Homo sapiens: one gene and its partners. The protein of the gene in region 1 interacts with the protein of each later gene in a biochemical or structural test. Each region holds a gene or a part of one and is shown in the gene's direction. Other genes may lie near its edges.

What was found.
Region 2: the proteins of SLX4 (region 1) and SLX1A form a complex in vitro, tested with the Homo sapiens proteins (2 studies listed by BioGRID).
Region 3: the proteins of SLX4 (region 1) and EME1 form a complex in vitro, tested with the Homo sapiens proteins (3 studies listed by BioGRID, with this or other methods).

What each region holds. Positions count from the first base shown.
Region 1 is NC_000016.10:3,594,607-3,601,632, reverse strand, and holds part of SLX4 (structure-specific endonuclease subunit SLX4), read left to right. Parts: intron 1-441; coding exon 442-654; intron 655-2,144; exon of another isoform or gene 2,145-3,472; coding exon of another isoform or gene 3,473-3,633; coding exon 3,634-3,836; intron 3,837-3,937; coding exon 3,938-4,254; intron 4,255-5,239; coding exon 5,240-5,480; intron 5,481-5,939; coding exon 5,940-6,028; intron 6,029-7,026. UniProt on the Homo sapiens protein: Regulatory subunit that interacts with and increases the activity of different structure-specific endonucleases.
Region 2 is NC_000016.10:30,189,384-30,196,874, forward strand, and holds the start of SLX1A (structure-specific endonuclease subunit SLX1), read left to right. Parts: upstream 1-4,491; 5' UTR 4,492-4,701; coding exon 4,702-4,889; intron 4,890-5,049; exon of another isoform or gene 5,050-5,356; coding exon 5,357-5,408; intron 5,409-5,502; coding exon 5,503-5,844; intron 5,845-7,491. Other genes in the region: BOLA2B (bolA-like protein 2), read right to left, coding at 3,592-3,691, 3,975-4,072, 4,150-4,212. UniProt on the Homo sapiens protein: Catalytic subunit of the SLX1-SLX4 structure-specific endonuclease that resolves DNA secondary structures generated during DNA repair and recombination.
Region 3 is NC_000017.11:50,376,203-50,381,983, forward strand, and holds the end of EME1 (structure-specific endonuclease subunit EME1), read left to right. Parts: intron 1-2,392; coding exon 2,393-2,479; intron 2,480-2,571; coding exon 2,572-2,693; intron 2,694-2,865; coding exon of another isoform or gene 2,866-2,904; coding exon 2,905-3,022; intron 3,023-3,249; coding exon 3,250-3,365; intron 3,366-3,462; coding exon of another isoform or gene 3,463-3,487; exon of another isoform or gene 3,488-4,109; coding exon 4,110-4,299; intron 4,300-4,560; coding exon 4,561-4,737; 3' UTR 4,738-5,281; downstream 5,282-5,781. UniProt on the Homo sapiens protein: Non-catalytic subunit of the structure-specific, heterodimeric DNA endonuclease MUS81-EME1 which is involved in the maintenance of genome stability. In the complex, EME1 is required for DNA cleavage, participating in DNA recognition and bending.

The sequences.
Region 1 (7,026 bases):
CTCATTGTATGGCTAGACTGTGTTTTTCCCATTCTTAGATGAGGAATATGACCATGGTTTATCCTTTCGTCCATTGGCGGACATTTGGAGCATTTCTACCCTTTGGGATTGTGGATAGAGCTGCCGTGAACATGGGTTTCATGTATTTGTTTGGGTACCTGCTTTCAGTTCTTTGGGGTCTCTACTTAGGAGTGGAATTTCTAAGTCATCATGTAACTGCATTTAATCTTTCCTTGCTTTCTTTAGCCAACTTTGCTGACAGATACCTAAGTGTAGTGTCTAGGGGCTGACTGCCGGGAGACGGAGCCAGGCTGTGTAGAGGGGATTGGCTTTGGGGAACTTGCTTTGACCACAGCACGTCTGTGTTGACCTGGACCCACATTTGCTCCAATCCACATTCCTGGGGAGGGTGGTTCTCCTGTATTGACTGTTTTCCTTCAGGTGCTTGGATGAAGCTGAAAAGACACTAAGACCTTCTGTGCCTCAGATCCCTGAGTGCCCGATTTGTGGGAAACCGTTTCTTACCTTAAAGAGCAGAACCAGTCACTTGAAGCAGTGTGCTGTGAAGATGGAGGTTGGCCCCCAGCTCCTGCTTCAGGCTGTGCGGCTGCAGACAGCACAGCCTGAGGGTAGCAGCAGCCCACCCATGTTCAGGTAAGTCGACGAAAAGGAAGAAAACCAAGCCAAATAATGCTGTGTGCACTCAGGGCTTTTTCTATTTAAAAAAGCTTTTTATGGGCTGGACGCAGTAGTTCACACCTGTAATCGCAGCACTTTGGGAGGCCAAGGTGGGCAGATCACCTTAGATCAGGAGTTCGATACCAGCCTGGCCGACATGGTACAATCTCGTCTCTACTAAAAATACAAAAATTAGCATGGTGGCACATGCCTGTAGTCCCAGCTACTTGGGAGGCTGAGGCAGGAGAATCACTTGAACCCAGAAGGTAGAGGTTGCAGTGAGCCAAGATCGTACCACTGCACTCCAGCCTGGACAGAGTGAGATCCTGTCTCCAAAAAAAAAAAAAAAAAAAAAAAAAAAAAGCTTTTTATAGTGTTGGAGGGAAAAAGAGCCCTCTTTGATTCTGGAAATGAAACACTTAGGGCGGAAATCGGGCACAGTCTAGAAGGGAGTGAGGAGGGGACAGAATCTGCATTCTGGAAGGCTCTGGACCTGCCCCTTTAGGGGGGTGCAGAAATGATCTTCGCACTGTTTTCCTCAAGGTCCTTCCTGAGTTTCCAATCCCATGATCCCACAGTCGGTACCCTCTAGTGCAGGGGTCCCCAACCCCCCAGCCTCGGACCAGTACCGGTCTGTGGCCTGTTAGGAACCTGGCCACACAGCAGGAGGTGAGCAGCGGGCAGGCAAGCTTTACTGCCTGAGCTCCGCCTCCTGTCAGATCAGTGGTGGCATTAGACTCACAGGAACACAAACCCTGTTGTGAGCCGCACATGCATGGAATCTAGGTTGAGCTCTCCTTATGAAAATCTAAAGCCTGATGATCTGAGGTGGAATGCTTTGATGCTGAAACCATTCCCCTACTCCTGTCCCATGGAAAAATTGTCTTCCATGAAACCAGTTCCTGGTACCAAAAAGGTTGGGGACTACTGCTTTACCACATCTAAGAATTTGGTAGTCACTTTACTCCATCCATTTCGTTGTTGGACAGCATGGTTTCCACCTCAGCACAGTCCAGTTTTCACACTGTTAACATAAGATTACTCAGCACAGTTCACAGATTTGGTGATTGGCCAGGCACGGTAGCTTACACCTGTAATCTCAATACTTTGGGAGGCCAGGGCGGAAGGATCACTTGAGCCCAGGAGTTCAAGGCCAGCCTGGACTACATAGCAAGACCCATCACTACAAAAAATTAAAAAATTAGCTGGCTGTGGTGCTGCACACCTGTAGTCCCAGCTACGTGGGAGGCTGAGGCGGAAGGATCACTTGAGCCTGGGAGGCCAAGGTTGCAATGAGCTGTGATTGCACCACTGCACTCCAGCCTGGGCGACAGGGCAAGAACCTGTCTTCATAAAACAAACAAAAACAACAACAAAGTTGGTGCAACAGAAGTGTAGGACCCTATTTTTTAAAAATCTTGCATGAATTAATGCTTAAAAGTTAAAATGAGTTGCCTTGCTCACAGCCAGGAAACAAGTCCTCAGCATGCAAACCACAGCCACACAAGTGCCAGAGGGCTGGCCCTGCTCCACGCTGCCCTGCTGCTGAGGACGCTAGAGCTGACACCAGGTTCATAGTGAACAAAGGCATCTTGGACCTTTGACTCCTCCAGGTTTGAGACCGCTGTCAGGAGCAAAGGGAAGGCCAAAGGCGATAGCTGTTTGTCCCGCCCCCTGCTTTGCACACAGGTCATGGGCAGCTGAGCTGGCTCGGGGCTGAGATGGCAGAGGGCAGAGGGGATTCTCTTGGTGGAGGAGCGCATCTGTATTTAGCATGGCAGGGGTGCAAGCCTTGAGGCCTTAGAATAGACGTCATCTAAGCCATTGTTTCTTTCTTGGCAGGACCACGCCAAAAGCACCTGCTCAGATAAAGTATGTCTGCCTTTAGAATACCTCCAAGTACTGAAACTAGATGTATGTGGATCCGTTTAGAAGGTTGTCAGAGTAGAAAACTACAGGAGCTGGATGCCCTCATGGGGTCTTTGAACCCCTCCCTCCCCAAAGGCCAAGCCTGTGGTCATCAGAACGCATGCCCCGGCCAGAGTGCCTCATATTCTTTCCCCACAGCCCAAACCTGGCCTGCTGGGGAGTGAGGAGGGAACACAGTCTGTGTTCCCTTCACAGAAGCAGGGTCCCAGGCTGCCCAGGCAGCTCCTTTCCCTCTGGGAGGCTGTGATTATCCACGTTCCTGGGAAGGTGAACTTGAGCCATCCCTGGCACCCTGGAGAGCATGAGCTTTTGCAAAAGCCAGAGGCATGACTGCATTGCAGGGAAGGTGGGCCCGGTTTGTGCTAAGTTCCTTTGTCACCTCTGCCCTCCTCCTTCTTGCCCAGCTTATTGGGAGTCACCCAGGCAGCCTAGGTTCTCTCCAGCCGGAAACTCCTGTTCATTTCCTCCAAACCAAACGAGCTGCTGCCCGTTGAAAGTGCAGAGTCCCGGGGCGGCTGGTATAATGTTGACCATCGGCAGCCTAAGCTGGGAAGCCCTTCCTTCTGGCCATGGACAGAGGCACTGCCGTGGAGCCCTTGCAGGAGGGAAGGGATCCTTTTCTGCCGGTGTGGCCAGGACCGTGTAAGGAGCATCGGAAGTATTGATGGGTGAAGGTGGTGGGAGTCCAGGGAGCCTGCTCAGAGCCATCGATTGTTGACTCCATTGGATGGGCTTGGCCACATGAGGATGTGCAGGTACCACAGATGGCTCCGTACATCTGCCATGAGCCTGCTGGACAGCAGCACGTGAAGGAACCCAGACCCTCCTGTGCCTGGGCCATGTTGAACTTCTGGCCTGGAATTGAATGAGTTCACACAAGGCAGTGGAAGTGGGGGACGCATCTGCCTGGCAGGTCCACATCCGTCACTTTTCTCTCAGGCCCAGCCCTCTCCAGACCAGTGTGACCAACCTGAGAAGCGTGCACTCCTCTAGCCCCAGTAACTTTTCTCTTTGGCTGTTTTCTAGCTTCAGTGATCACAGTAGAGGTCTGAAACGGAGAGGACCCACCAGCAAGAAGGAGCCACGGAAGAGGCGGAAGGTGGACGAGGCACCGTCCGAGGACCTGCTGGTGGCCATGGCTCTGTCCCGGTCGGAGATGGAGCCGGGTGCGGCTGTACCAGCGCTCAGGCTGGAAAGTGCCTTTTCTGAGAGGATAAGACCAGAAGCAGGTTTGTGTGATCAGAAGAGTGACCCTGGGAGAGGCCATCAGCAGGTCCCGGGTGAGTGGACCGACTCCACCGTTGATGGTGTCGCTTTTGTTTCTCTCTAGAGAATAAAAGTCGCAAGAAGAAACCCCCGGTATCCCCCCCATTGTTGTTAGTCCAGGACTCTGAAACCACAGGCCGACAGATAGAGGACCGTGTGGCCCTGCTCCTCTCTGAGGAAGTGGAATTGTCTAGCACGCCACCACTTCCTGCCAGCAGGATTTTAAAGGAAGGGTGGGAAAGAGCGGGCCAGTGTCCTCCTCCACCTGAACGCAAGCAGAGCTTTCTGTGGGAGGGCAGCGCACTGACTGGGGCCTGGGCCATGGAGGACTTCTACACGGCCAGGCTGGTCCCTCCTCTCGTGCCCCAGCGGCCTGCCCAGGTGAGTCCCTCCCCTCAGGCACATGGATAGGCTTTTGGGGGAGGTTGGCAATCCCAGAACTGCAACACTGGGTACCCACAGCCAGGTGATGGAAAGTCCAGGAAGGAAAGGCAGAGGCGGGAGGAGGCCAGAGGGGCACTTGGTGGCTGCAGCTTTCTTCTCTGTCCAGCAACTACATGGTACTCTGGGTAGGATCAGGGAGGACCCTTGGTGTCCACCAGAGTGTGTTCCTGGAGTTTGTTGAAAATGCAGAGTCCCGGCCGGGCGCAGTGGCTCACGCCCGTAATCCCTGCACTTTGGGAGGCTGAGGTGGGCGGATCACGAGGTCAGGAGTTCGAGACCAGCCTGGCTAATATGGTGAAACCCCATCTCTACTAAGAATACAAAAATTAGCCAGGCATGGTGGCACACACCTGTAATCCCAGTTACTTGGGAGACTGAGGCAGAAGAATCGCTTGAACCGGGGAGGCGGAAGTTGCAGTGAGCCGAGACCGTGCCATTACACTCCAGCCTGGGCAACAAAGTGAGACTCTGTCTTGAAAAAAAAAAAAAAAACAGAGTCCCAGGGCAACTGGCAAAATGCCTCAGATGGAGCCCGGAAACTGGCATTCGGAGCACACACTCCAGACAGTCGTGCGGCAGGTAGCCCTACAGTCAGTACGCAGCTGCCTGAGGCAGCTTGGAGGACTTCAGGAGGGCGGCAGGCCTGGGCCCCCCTGGCCTCTGACAAGCCTTTGTGCAAACAGATGCCACAGGCCTGGCCTTGGCCGTGACAGAGGAGGAGCATGTTGACATGAGTGCTGGGGAAAAGCATCCCAGGACTGCTCCAGGCTGTGGCTGGAGCCCCGGGGACAGTCTGTCCCCACAGCCCACATCCTGCTCTGTAGTTTTAGGTCCAGCCGTGCATACCACATGTGATGGCTTCTGCAGTGTGTGCGTCAATGACAGTGACCACGTGGTCACTCTCCTTACTGGCTTCTTTCAGGGCCTTATGCAGGAGCCCGTGCCGCCTCTGGTGCCACCTGAGCACTCAGAGCTGAGCGAGCGAAGGTCACCCGCTCTCCACGGCACCCCCACTGCAGGCTGTGGCTCCAGGGGCCCGTCGCCTTCGGCCAGCCAGAGGGAGCACCAGGCCCTGCAGGACCTCGTGGACCTGGCGAGGGAGGGACTGAGCGCCAGCCCGTGGCCCGGCAGTGGGGGCCTGGCTGGCTCGGAAGGGACTGCAGGTGAGATGCTGGGTGGGACTCTAGGGCCAGCCCTGCCCTCCCGGGCCTCCCCTCCCCGCGGCTGAGGCTGCCATGGACTGGCTCTTGTGCCGCCGCGACGGCAGCTCTGACCTGGTGGGAGAACACGCAGCCTCTGGGCGCTTTCATTTTTTCTCAAAGGTCAATGTGGTGTAGACAACTCTGTCATGATTTTCCTTCCACTTTAACCAAAGACAGAGCTGTCTGCCCACAGCGAGTGAATCCTCTGGGTGAACTGTCTGTTTTGCTCTTCTCTTACCTCCCTGGTGGAGTGGTGGTGAGACAGGGTGTGCGGGTTTGCTTTGCATGAAGGTGTCCTCGGATAGCAAGCACCTTCCGAGGCACCGCAGGGGCTGGCTCAGCCTGTGGTCAACGCTGTCTTCTTGGTGGTGGATGTGGCTGGGCTGTGACGTTCCTTTAACCTGTGAATCCTCCACTCAGGGTTGGACGTGGTGCCCGGCGGCCTTCCTCTGACTGGGTTTGTGGTGCCATCGCAGGACAAGCACCCGGACAGGGGCGGCCGCACCTTGGTAAGAACTGGCTCTGGCCCGCGCTCTCTGGTCCCGGCCATCCCACTTGCCATGTGTGTGGTGGGGTTGGCTCACCGCTGGCCTCTGGCCCCCAACGCAAGTGCAGTGGCCTCTCAAGGCCTCTGCTTTCCAGAAGGCTGCCACATCCTGACATCCGTGAGCAGAGCCACGGACCCACAGCCACCTCAGCGCCCCTCTGGGGGCTCTGCCACGAGACTTCTGCCTTTTCTGTCTGTGACTCCATGGGGCACCTTGGGGTTGAGGCCCCAGAGCCTGCCCTGTCCTGGGTCCCAGGAGTGTAGAGGGACCACAGTTTCTCAGCGCGGTTGCCCCATCCAGGCACGCTCTGCTCGTTCCTCAGTAGTTGGGAGCTCACCAAGGGCTTGCTCTCCCTCCCCTCTGTGCGGGTCCTGGGCTCCAGAGCACAGCTGAGCAGCCTGGCCTGGCCTCCCTGTCAGTGCGCTGTCTGGGGAAGAACCGGGGTGGGAACTGGCTTTTCCCTAGAGTGGACCTCCTCCCATTTGCATGTCAGTGTCAACCAAGCACTTCATGCCAAGGCCAGCCTAGGGACATCATCACAGACTGGACCCGGCTGTCCTCTTGGCCAGGTCCCCGAGCTGCTTGGACTCAGGGTGCTTGTCCGTCACAGGGGATGGGTGCACCTCCTCAAAGCCCAGGTATCCCGCAGCCTGTCCCACTCAGTGCGGGAGCTGCCAGCACTGTGAGTTCACATCTAGCCCCATGTCTGGCATCTCCACGGGGGCCAGGGAACCCACTGGCAAGAGCCAGAGGAACAAGCTAGTGCTTTGCTCTTCTGTGCTACTCAGGGCCTTAGGGTCACTCAGAGGTTGAGGCCATCGTGGGAAGCGTTTTGGAGAGGAAAGGAGAATGCAGGTCCTGGCTCCCGGCCCACCCTAGCGCCACCTCCATGCGGGGAGCTTCCCACTGCCCAGTTAGCAGAGCAGAGGTGGGGAGGTGACGGCTCTTCCTCTCCTCCT
Region 2 (7,491 bases), about 27 Mb from region 1:
AACATCACGTTGCACGTGACTCTGCTGGCACTGTTGCTTGTGAGGAAATGAACCAACCATCACTTACAGGGTAGGCATCTTTTAAACTGCAGGTCCAAAGATAAAAATAACGAGGGAGGCTGGGCATGGGGACTCACGTCTATAATCCCAGCACTGTGGGAGGCTGAGGCGGCAGGATCATTTGAGCCCAGGAGTTTGAGACCTGCCTGAGCAACACGGCGAGATACCGTCTCTACGAAAAATAAAATAAAAAATTAGCCAGGCATGGTGGTGGGCACCTATAGTTCCAGCTACTCAGGAGGCTGAGGCAGGAGGATCCCTTGAGCCCAGGAGGTCGAGGCTGCAATGAGCCATTGCACCACTGCACTGCAGCCTGGGTGACAGAGCAAGACACTGTCTCTAAAAAATATAAATAGGCCGGGTGTGGCAGCTCACGCCTGTAATCCCAGCACTTTAGGAGGCCGAGGTGGGTGAATCACCTGAGGTCAGAAGTTCGAGACCAGCCTGGCCAACATGGTGAAACCCCATCTCTACTAAAAATACAAAAATTAGCTGGGCATGGTGGCAGGCGCCTGTAATCTCAGCTACTCAGGAGGCTGAGGCAAGAGAATTGCTTGAATCCGGGAGGCAAAGGTTGCAGTGAGCCGAGATCATGCCATTGTACTCCAGCCTGGGGGACAGGAGTGAGACTTCGTCTCAAAAAAAAAAAAAAATATATATATATATATATATATATATTTTTTAAATGTATAAATACATCATATATATTTTAATATATAAATATATTATATATATTATATATTTTAATATATAAATATATTATATATAATATATTTTAATATATAAATATTATATATATTATATTTTAATATATAAATATTATATATATTAATTATATATTTTAATATATAATATATATTATATTATATAATAATAAATTATATATTATATTATATAGTAATAAGTTATATATTATACTATATAATAATATAGTATAATATATAATATATATTATAATATATATTATATTATATTATATTATATTATATATTATAATATAAATTATATATATTTTATATATATGTTTTATATATTATATATTTTAATATATGAAACAGGGGAACTTCTTCTAAGGAAAAGACAGAATTAAGGCAACAGGCTGATCCTAGTTTACCAGAGAAGAAACTGAGGCCGGGAGCAGGAGCCCAGCTCACTGAAGGGCAGATCCCAAGTCAGAGTCCAAGTCTCCCCACTTTTTTATTTATTTAATTTTTTCTGAGATGGAGTTTCATTCTTGTTGCCCAAATTGAGTACAATGGCACAATCTCGGCTCACCGCAACCTCTGCCTTCTGGGTTCAAGCCATTCTCGTGCCTCAGACTCCCAAGTAGCTGGGATTACAGGCATGTGCCACCACGTCCGGCTAACTTTTGTGTTTTCAGTAGAGGTGGGGTCTCACCATGTTGGCCAGACTGGTCTCAAACTCCTGGCCTCAAGTCATCTGCCTGCCTCAGCCTCCCAAAGTGCTGGGATTACAGGCATGAGCCGCTGTGCCTGGCCTTATGTCTCCCCTTTTGAATTCAGAGCCTTCCCCCGTGTAGTGAGTGCTTCTGCCTCTCTAGCCCTTCCTGTGGGTTCTGCCTGGGCCTGACCTCTGTGAGAGACCTGGCAGGAACAGGTCTGTCAGGCCTTGTGGGGAGTGGGTGTGGGAATAGGTTTTGATACCCAACTTAGCAGGTGATCCTGAGATGGGAGGACACAGGGCTGTTTGGGATGGGCGTCTTAGCCATAGTAAGGTTTGGTTCATATCAAGCAGGGACCACCCATGGCGTCATTTCCAGGCCCCACCTCTTCAGTATGCCATAGAAAACTACTTGGGCAGTAGAGGTGTGGGAAGAAAACAAAAAAGAAAGCTGGGCATAAGTGGCACACGCCTGTAATCCCAGCACTTTTGGAGGCCGAGGCGGGTAGATCACCTGAGGTCGGGAGTTCAAGACCAGCCTGAACAACATGGAGAAACCCTGTCTCTATTAAAAATACAAGATTAGCCGGGCGTGGTAGCACATACCTGTAATCCCAGCTACTTGGGAGGCTGAGACAAGAGAATCGCTTGAACCCAGGAGGCGGAGGTTGTGGTGAGCCGAGATCGTGCCATTGCACTCCAGCCTGGGCAACAAGAGTGAAACTCTGTCTCAAAAACAGACAAACAAACAAACAATAAAAAACCCCCAAAAATTAGCTGGGCATGGTGGCGTGTGCCTGTAATCCCAGCTACTAGGGAGGCTGAGGCAGGAGAATCGCTTGAACCCGGGAGGGGGAAGTTGTAGTGAGCCAAGATCATGCTACTGCACTCCAGCCTGGGCAACAGAGCCAAGACTCTGTCTCAAAACAAACAAACAAACAAACAAAAAAACGCAGGAAAAGAGTGTGTGATGGCTGAAACTTGCAATTTCTCACTCTCAACGAGCCCTGGCCCCAACTAGGTTATTTGGGCTCCCTCCCTAGGTCTCAGGGACCTCTGTTCAAAGTCCTAGCAATCTGGGCCAGGTACAATGGCTCACGCCTAAAATTCCAGCACTTTAGGAGACCAAGGCGGGCAGATCACTTGAGGCCAGGAGTTTGAGACTGGCCTGGCCAACATGGTGAAACCCTGTCTCTACTAAAAGTACAAAAATTAGCCGGGCATGGTGGTGCACCCCTGTAATCCCAGCTACTCAGGAGGCTGAAGCACAAGAATCTTTTGAACCTGGGAGGCAGAGGTTGCAATGAGCTGAGATGGCGCCACGGCACTCCAGCCTGGGCGACAGAGCAAGACCCTGTCTCAAACAACAAAAAACAAATAAAACAAACAAGGTCCTAGCAACCCTACTAACCTGTTATGAAGACTGATACAGGGGCATCACCTGCCCCAATTTTCTGACTCAGGTCAGCCTTATATTCCTACTCTAATCTCACCCCTATCCCCGTCCCACACCCACTATTCTTAAAACCTCCATGGTCCTCCGGGGGCAGCTGTAGACACATTAAGCCCAGGGCTATGGGGCCACTGGAACCTTCTCCAGTGGGTCTGAAAACATCAGCATTCCAGGAGTTGATGAGCCCCTACCTGGGCACCACTCCCTCTTGGGCCTGAGAAGGCCGGGGGGAACCTGCAAGGAATATGTGGAATTCTATATGGTGCCTCTGATACTGCGGTAATGTCAGGGAGAGGTTTGTTCAACTGGTCAGGGCCCTGAAACCCCGATCACTTTCTCATCTCTGCATCTTGAAGGCTAGCAGAGAGGAGGAACCCTGAGCTCTCTAGGAGGTGGGTAGGTGGTGGCAGTACAGACTCCTAGATGTCTAAACGGAGTTGCAGAGAGAAGGCTTTCTCGGTAGACCCTGGAAGGGACTTTTACGGTAGAACTTTCATTTTACAAGCAGGGATAGAGGCCTAGATGGGGACAGAGACGTGTCCAAGGTAAAACAATGGACGGAGGCAGGGCAGGGAGAGGCCAGGTCCTAGACTCGGCCTCAGCACCCCTCCCACACACACATCGACACAGAAGCTGGTCCAGATTTATAATTTAATGGCTGTGCAGATCCCAGTCCCTCATTTCTGTCGCTCACGTGCCCACTGGTCTGGGGTCAGGGTTTTCTGTTCAAAGGCATGGATGTGCGGGAGCTCTTCTGCTAGGCACGCGTTCACCAGCCTGGGGCGAGAGATGGGGTTAGGAAAAGGCCAGCGGTGATCGCACACCCCGAGGCTAGGGTGACCCAAGAGACTGGTGTCCCCAAGGTTGTAGTCCCCAGGCCGTGGGAACACGTACTTGGAGAGAGGGTCTACATCGAAATACTCGAAGCAGGGGTCACGAAGGCGGGATCCTCAAGGTCCCTGAGCCACGCCAGGGGGAGTGCGGGAGTCAGGTTGCAGGGGTAGGGGGAGTGGCTGGGGTTGTGGTACAGGAGCTAGGCAAGGTGCTCCCAGGGCCTTACCTGTGTCTCTGAAGCAGCGGTTTCCCCTCGAACTTGGCCGACACCACCAGGACTCGGAAGCTACAGGAGCAACGGTTGAGGGTCGTGTCCTCCACCTCCTACCGAGCGGAAGAATATGAATGGTGCCGAACCCGCCCCCCGAGCTCTTTTCCCCTTGTCCGGCGGCTCAACTCACCACATGCTCCGCCTCCAGGTCCCGCTGCAGCTTCTCGCGGAGGTATTCGGCGCTGAGTTCCATGGCGGCAGTCCAGCTGGAACGGCAGCCCAGCAGGGACACAACCCCAGCTCGGGCGCCGGCCACGCTACCTTGCTGCCTTACAGGAGCCACTTCCGCTGGAAAACTCACTTCCGCCCTTACTAAGGCGTACGTCAACGCAGTACTTCCGCCCTCAAGCAGCCGGGCTTTCCAGCGGTCCAGGCTTTTCGCGCTTGCCATGTGTCAGCCAATCAGAGCCTGAGGAAGGTGGGACTCGGGCGGAGCCGATGCTGAATGGTACGCGCTCGCCGACTGGACAGCAGTCTGGCTTCCGCGGTCGGACTTCTACACCCGCCTCCAGACAGGAGAGGGGCACGTACCGGCGCTACGGCTTCCTGCAGGCTGCCTCCGGATAGTCCCCGAGAGCTTGTTCCGAAGCAAGCACCCTGCAGCCCTAGCGATCCAGCCCTCCCCTGGACCCTAGGTCACGGCAATCAACCCCCTGCTGTGGTTCCCGAACCCCAAGGCCCGATGGGTCCCGCGGGGGTCGCGGCGAGGCCAGGGCGCTTTTTCGGCGTCTACCTGCTCTACTGCCTGAACCCCCGGTACCGGGGCCGCGTCTACGTGGGGTTCACTGTCAACACTGCTCGTCGGGTCCAGCAGCACAATGGGGGCCGCAAAAAAGGCGGGGCCTGGCGGACCAGCGGGCGAGGGCCCTGGTGAGAGGGGGAGGCCTTCTGTGCCGGGAGGAAGGCGTCCCAGAGGAGGCGGACCCCGCGGGGCACAGGCCTGTTGAGAAGGACCGGCCAGGACTGTGACAGAGGCGGGGCGTCTGTGGTGGGGACGGGGCCTGTCGCAGGGGAGGAGCGTGACGGGGAGGCGGTGCCCGGGGCATCTCCGCGGCGGAACTCAGGGAAGGAGCTAGCTGGGGCGGGGGTGATGATCCAGGCTGGGTTCCAGCATAGGGCTCTTGGTGGGCACGCTGGGGTCGGGTGGAATGCAGGAGAGAGAGGAGGTGGGACAGGTGGGTACCTGGGCTGGAGGCAGGGCCTGAGGTGGGCAGGTGCAGAGGGCTGCACTTCTCGGCTGAAGCCGGGAATGAGGACCCCGCTCTCGGGTGGGATTGGAGGGGACCCGCGGCTGAGGCGCTGGGCTGCGACAGGGACATCACCGTTCTCCTCCTCAGGGAGATGGTGCTCGTCGTGCACGGCTTCCCGTCCTCCGTGGCCGCCCTTCGGGTAAGGAAGGAGACCGGGCAGCGGCGGCCGGGTGAGGGCTTGGGTTCCGCCCCTCGCTCCGAGCCGCCCTGATGCCCCTGTACGCCGCCCGCAGTTTGAGTGGGCTTGGCAGCACCCGCACGCCTCGCGCCGCCTGGCGCACGTGGGGCCTCGCCTGCGAGGAGAGACAGCCTTCGCTTTCCACCTGCGCGTGCTGGCGCACATGCTGCGCGCACCGCCCTGGGCTCGCCTCCCGCTCACGCTGCGCTGGGTGCGCCCAGACCTCCGCCAGGACCTCTGCCTCCCGCCGCCGCCGCACGTGCCTCTGGCCTTCGGGCCTCCACCGCCCCAGGCCCCGGCCCCAAGGCGCCGCGCAGGTCCCTTTGATGACGCGGAGCCTGAGCCAGACCAGGGGGATCCAGGGGCCTGCTGCTCCCTGTGCGCCCAGACCATCCAGGTGAGGTCCCCCCGAGGAATGGATGGCTCTAGAGTCCAGACGACTTCGGATCCAGCTCTTTCTTGAGGGAAACCCACTGACACGCTTTGGCCACCCTATCCCCATCTCTAAGATGCTGATGCTATAGGACTTACGGCCATTCCTGAGCAAAGCAGGCCCTGCTCAGGGCCTTCACCATTTCCCCTTCAAAGAAAAGGTTCTTCCCTAGGCCATCAGTACTCCGCTGCACTCCAGTGTGGTCGACAGAGCATGACCCTCTTTTTTTTTTTTTTTTTTTTGAGATGGAGTCTAGCTCTGTCGCCCAGGCTAGAGTGCAGTGGCGCGATCTCTGCTCACTGCAAGCTCCGCCTCCTGGGTTCACGCCATTCTCCTGCCTCAGCCTCCCGAGTAGCTGGGACTACAGGCGCCCGCCACCACGCCTGGTTAATTTTTTGTATTTTTAGTAGAGACGGGGTTTCACCGTGTTAGCCAGGATGGTCTCGATGTCCTAGCCTCGTGATCCGCCCGCCTCAGCCTCCCAAAGTGCTGGGATTACAGGCATGAGCCACCGCGCCCGGCCCTTTTTTTTTTTTTAGACAGAGTCTTGCTCTGTTGCGGAGGCTGGAGTGCAGTGATCTCAGCTCACTGGAAGCTCCGCCTCCTGGGTTCAAGCGATTCTCCTATCTCAACCTCCCAAGTGTGCCACCACACCTGCCGAATGTTTGTGTTTTTAGTAGGGATGGGGTTCGCCATGTTGGGCAGGCTGGTCTCAAACTCCTGACCTCAAGTGATCTGCCCGCCTCGGCCTCCCAGAGTGCTGGGATTATAGGCGTGAGCCACCATGCCTGGACATGACCCTGTCTCTAAAACAATGTAATGAACTGCAGCTCATTCTTGTGTGCACTTTTCTGCACCCCCTTTCCCTTAACACTTACTATTGTCTGGCATGCTACGTGTTTTCTTGATCTCATTAGCCTCTCCCACCCCAACTGCCACACTGCACTATCAGAGGGCAGCACTTATCACTGCTGTAGAACAAAGTCCTGCACTGAGCCGATGGCCCAGAAATTTTCTTTTTATTTATTTATTTATTTTTTTTTTGAGACAGAGTCTTACTCTGTCGCTCAGGCTGGAGTGTAGTGGCGCGATCTCAGCTCACTGCAACCTCTGCCTCCTGGTTTCAAGCAATTCTCCTTCCTCAGCCTCCAGAGTAGCTGGGATTACACGCGCCTGCCACCGCGCCTGGCTAATTTTTGTATTTTTAGTAGAGATGGGGTTTCAACCATGTTGGCCAGGCTGGTCTCAAACTCCTGACCTCAGGTGATCCTGCCCACCTAAGCCTCCCAAAATGCTGGTATTACAGGCATGAGCCACCGTGCCCGGCCTAAATATTTAATAAAATAATGGACGATGGGTGCCTTCTACTGAGCTCCCGGTAATTGTGAGTGAGTAGAGGACTTGCCCTGGGGACATTCAGTGACCTGCTGGGTGTTGCTGAGCTGTGAGGAAGTTCAGGTCTGGCTGCAGTGGTGAGGCTGTGACTCAATCAATCACTGCTGATGCTCCCAGGACCTGCACCAGCTTAGTCCTAGGGGCAAGGATTTTAACTGTCCACCTCAGTTTCTTCATTTGTAAGATGCAAATAACAGTCACCCCTGCCTCATGGGA
Region 3 (5,781 bases), on another chromosome or scaffold:
TTCTGGCTGACATTTCCTCCCTCTCCTCCCCTTACAATTACAGGATAAATATGCTTTTATTTTAAAGGATACTTATCAGGGCCCCAGCAGGAAGACAGATGGCACATTCAACTCAGGGTAATTAAAAGAAGATTGAATAAAGGGACTGTTTGCCAAGGCATGGGCAGGGTATGAGGAAACTACCAGTGACAGCATGGTACCTCACAGTAATAACAGCACAACTTAGGTTTTTCGACCTCAGTATTGTTGACATTTTAGATTGGAGAATTCTTTGTTTTGGGTGCTGTCCTATGATGTGCACAATGTTTAGCAGCATTCCTGGCCACTATCTACTAATGTACCCCTCTCAGTCATGACAATAAAAAATGTCTGCAGACACTGCCAGATGTCATTTGTGGGGAAAAATCACCCCCGGTTGAGAACCATTGGCATAGCTGTTACCATCCCTATGCCTGAAGGGATGAGGGGAAGGAGTGGTTAACAGAATTCAGGAGAGAGAAATGGAGAGAGGACCACCTTGAGCGAAGCTATGAGCTGCCACAGAGGGGGACAGCAAACCCTAGGTGACCCCACTGGGAGGGAGCCAGGGGAAAAATACCCTGACTTCACTTTTCTCCTTCCCACTAGTCCTCTCCTCGGGTCCCTGCTGGTGACACCCAGCTGGGAGCCAGAAGACATGTGGGCCCTGTGTTTTTTGTAGAGATTGCAGAGTGTAGCTTGTATTTTTGGTAGAGACGGGGTTTTGCCATGTTGCCCAGGCTGGTCTTCAACTCCTGAGCTCAAGCAATCCACCTGCCTCAGCCTCTCAAAATGCTGCGATTACAGGTGTGAGGCACCTTGCCTAGCACTAAGATTCTTTTTTATCTCACCAGAAGCATCTTGTATAAAATAAGAAAAAAGATTTTTTTTTCCTCTCTTTGATTTCTTTTTTGGATCTGATAACTTTCTCAGTAACACAGGACAGTTCCCCACACTTTTTACTCTGGGGGTATTAGCAAGCCTTTATATTCATAGAGCAGCTTACCCTCTCAAGGCACTCCCACATTCTCTCTTGTGTTTCCATCAGTCATCCTATGGGGTAGGACTTCTCCCCACATCACAGGTGGGGAAACTGGGGCTCAGAAAAGTTAAAAGCCTTGTTGAGGATCACAACGGGAATGAGAACCCAGAGCTCCCCAAACCTACACTTTGCTGTAATATAGGTCTTGCTTTGCTTATAGGGACCCAATCAGAAAACTTTCTATCAAAGTCCTGTTCCCCAATTACTCCATAATACTGTACTGCTGGAGGATTGTTGGCCTTGAGGCATCCTTGACTTTGATTATGCCCTACCTGTGATAAACAGGAGGTACTCTCATAGACTGAAGTTTCCCTTGTGATTCTTGTCTTTGTCACAAAAAAACCTATCTGTTTGTAAGGACCACTCGGCTCACAGCATCTGCCTTCAAAGCCAGAGTCATTTACTTGTACTAACCTTTGGAAGAGTTTCCCTTCCCTCCATTCCCGTATTCAAAATGGCCCCAGCCCCTTTCAACTTGCTATGTTCCTTTTTTCTCTCTTTTTTTTTTTTTGAGACAGAGTTTCACCCTGCTGCCCAGGCTAGAATGCAATGGCATGGTCTCGGCTCACTGCAGCTTCTGCCTTCTGGGTTCAAGTGATTCTTCTGCCTCAGCCTCCCAAGTAGCTGGGATTACAGGCGTGTACCACCACGCCCAGCTAATATTTTTGTATTTTTAGTAGAGACGGGGTTTCACCATGTTGGCCAGGCTGGTCTCGAACTCCTGACCTCAGGTGATCCGCCCGCCTAGGCCTCCCAAAGTGCTGGGATTGGGATTACAGGTGTGAGCCACCGTGCCTGGCCTGCTATGTTCCTTTTTTTTTTTTTGATGGAGTCTAGCCCCGTTGCCAGGTTGGGGTGCAGTGTTATGATCTCGGCTCACTGCAACCTCCACCTCCCAGTTTCAAGCAATTCTCCTGCCTCAGTCTCCCGAGTAGCTGGGATTACAGGCACGTACCGCCACACCCAGCTAATTTTTGTATTTTTAATAGAGATGGGGTTTTACCGTGTTGGCCAGGATGGGCTTGATCTCCGACCTCGTGATCTGCCCACCTCGGCCTCCCAAAGTGCTGGGATTACAGGCGTGAGTCACCGCGCCCGGCTGCTATGTTCCTTTCTTATTCACTGTCTCTGAGATGCAGGGCACCAAGACTGAATCATTGAGGGCTGGGAGGGACAGCGACACTGTTTCTTGCCACAGTGACTTCATTCCAGAAAGGATAATGCATAAGGGGTGGGAGTTAGTTCATTCACCCAGAAGACCTGGGCCACTCTCACAGGTGCTCAATACCTGCTGACCTCCCTCCCTGTGCTGTGTTCTGGGTACTTTGGCAGGACAGAGAGGACTGGGTGGAGGAGCCAACAGTACTGGTGTTGCTCCGGGCAGAGGCATTTGTGTCCATGATCGACAATGGAAAGCAGGTGGGCAGAGCCAGAGGGTGGGAGGACACGGAACAGAGGGCTGACTCTTACTAGGAAGCAAGTATTAATGCAGTTTCTGCCCCTTCATGCAGGGAAGCCTGGACAGCACTATGAAAGGGAAGGAAACGCTTCAGGGCTTTGTAACTGACATCACAGCAAAGACAGCAGGGAAAGCTCTGTCACTGGTGATTGTGGATCAGGAGAAATGCTTCAGGTTTGGATTTGCCCTGGTGATTTCATGTTAAAAGGGGCAGCTCTTGGGCCAAGGGGGGTGAGTTTAGTTTATTCATTGCAGATGTAGGTCACTCTGCAAGGTAGTCCATCTCTAACAAGTCCAGGGGGATGCTCTGGTCCAGTCTTCTTCTGTATCTTCTGCCTGACTTCAGCCTGGAGCTGCTGTTCTTTGATTTCCTCCCCTGCACCAGTGCTCAGAATCCTCCAAGAAGAGGGAAACAGGGAGCAAATAAACAGACCAAGAAGCAGCAGCAGAGACAACCAGAGGCCAGCATAGGGTCCATGGTATCCAGGGTAGACGCTGAAGAGGTAAGAACGTCCTGTTGCCTGAATCGGGCTGGGTACTCACTGGTCACCTGAGACTTGCTATTGATAGAGAATAAAATGCCTGCTGCGTACTGTTTTCTGCCTTGGCACTGACTAAGAGAAGGTACCAAACAGGAAGCCAAGGGGCTGGGGTGTGGCTTTAGTGGACAGTGACTTGGCAGCTAGTCTCTTCCTACCCTTCCAGTCCATCGTTGCTTTTGGGTTTCTAGGCATTGGTGGATCTGCAGCTACACACAGAAGCCCAGGCTCAAATTGTGCAGAGCTGGAAAGAGCTGGCCGACTTCACATGCGCATTCACAAAGGCTGTGGCTGAGGCGCCCTTCAAGTGAGTAACCCCAGCAAGTCCAGCCTCCATGCTGGGCCTGTCCTTTACCATGGCTCTTGCAGTCAAAGCAAATGTCCCTTTCCCCTCATCTCTGCAGTCAGCCCATTGTCTCTCAAGCTTGAGGCAGAAGGAGCTGACCTCACACTGGGGATTCTTGGGAAGAGTCCTCAAGCCTAGCGCCTTTTCAAATATTCTCCTTTCGCCTATATGTAAGTATGTGTTCTGCAGGCTGATATCATAGGCCAGGTTACCATAGGCCAAGTTACCAGGATTAATTACAGGTCAGATCACAATGTAATAAGCACTAGGAAAGCAAATTTTTGGCCTACTCAGTTCAAGAAGTGTTCACTGTCAGAATTTAAAATAAGTAAATGACCTCAGAGACAATCCAGTCCAAGTCCCTTATTTTATACTTGAGGGGACTGAGGCCTGAAGAGATTGACTTGTCTAAGCTCCTAGCAGTTAGAAGAACCAGAAATAGATTGCAGATTGCCAGATATCCAAAGAATCTGGTATCTTTTCTTCTACTATAATGGACTAGATGTAGTTTTTAAATGAATCAGCAACTGGCCCTATACCTGGCAACAAAGTGAGCACTCAAATTGTCAAAGGCACAAAAAGGCCAGATGTAACATGGCGCCCACCTCTTCCAAGGTCAGTGGGGGGGTTTTCAGTTGCCACTTGAGGGGAACAGGTGTAGAAGAGTAATGAGCAACTTACAGCTCTCCAACCACGCTGTTGCAGGAAGCTCCGAGATGAAACTACCTTCTCCTTCTGTCTGGAGAGTGACTGGGCTGGAGGGGTGAAGGTGGACCTTGCTGGCAGGGGACTCGCACTAGTCTGGAGGAGACAGATTCAGCAGCTGAACCGAGTCAGCCTGGAAATGGCCAGTGCAGTTGTGAATGCCTATCCCTCCCCACAGCTCCTGGTACAGGTATGCTGCTCCAGGGCTCAGGGGTCACTGCCCATTGCCTGCGGGCTCAGTGGGCCCCCAGATTTCCATGGACAACTGTTGAGGGCCCACAAAGGCCTCACAGGTCAGCAGTGCAGGTCTACTAAGATCAGTGTTGCTAATGCTGACCCAGGGAGGGAGGACAGGTTCTCATGCCCCAAGCCAAGCGTAGCACCCTCCATGCTCATGGAGAAGGGATCACCATGGATGGTACCATATTAAGAGGTCATCTACCACTTCCAGGCTTATCAGCAGTGTTTTTCGGATAAAGAACGCCAGAATTTGCTCGCAGACATACAGGTGCGCCGTGGGGAAGGTGTGACATCCACTTCTCGCCGCATTGGACCAGAACTATCCAGGCGTATCTACCTTCAGATGACCACTTTACAGCCACATCTCTCTTTAGATAGTGCTGACTGATTCTAGCCCTCAGGGATGAGGATGAAAAGCTGGAAACTTCCACTTCCCCAACCTCAGAGCCTGACTGTAATGAAGAGACTGGCAGCACCTCCTGGAACACAAGCCTAGGTGAGGCCCAGTCTTTCTTGGGTCTTATTATTTGTGAAGGTCTCTCTGCCTGTCGGCTGGGGCAGAGACTGAAATACTGCCACCTACCTTTGGCATTTAATGTTCCTCTCCTGGCAAAAATTCACTGCCACAGACAAACCACCCCCACTCCTACCCAGCCAGCCCTCAAAACACAAAGGAACAAAGACAGTCCACTCAGACACTTATTTAATAACTGTAGAAATCCAAAAGAATTAGCATCAAATCTTGAAGTCGTGAGTGAAGCTGCGGGTTGGCTTGACTGGGCTCAGCCACTGAGCTGCCTCAACCGGCCAAGGAACGGGATTATGATGACTATGCGGACTTCTATATTGTCTTCATCTCATTGTGTGTATTATGTATTTAGTTTCAATAAAGCATTTGTACCAATGGCTCTGGAGCTTGGAGGAAGACTAAAGGAATGTGTAGTGATTCTGAGTAAGATGTAGACCTACGCAGCAGAGCTATGGGGGAGAAGATTAACAAAGTCCTTTCTTCCAATATCAGGATAGTCATGAGTTGCAGTCCCATCCAAAAGGTCATTAGGGCTAAAAGGCCCTCTGTGTCTCTGAACTATGAGATTCTTGCTCCCTCCGGGGGAGCCAAGGAGCTTGCAACTGGGAGTTTGCAGTGAATGAGCACCATGACACAGTCATTTCTGATCCCTCTATCCAGCTGTTGTGAAAAGATGAAGCAAAGGAGGCAAGAAAATGCTTAATTTAGCAGACAAGAGAATGGACAGTGTGATCCTTGTTTGTGCTAGCCATTGGGTGATGCACCACTTTTCAGCTCCATGATGCTACTTGTTTCCCTTCATATCCTGTTTCCATTTATGCCCTTCAGTTATGGTCTAGAATCAAACAATTCTAAACCTCAGTGTCTTATGAAGCTGACACTTCAAAACCTGCAGAAGCAGGT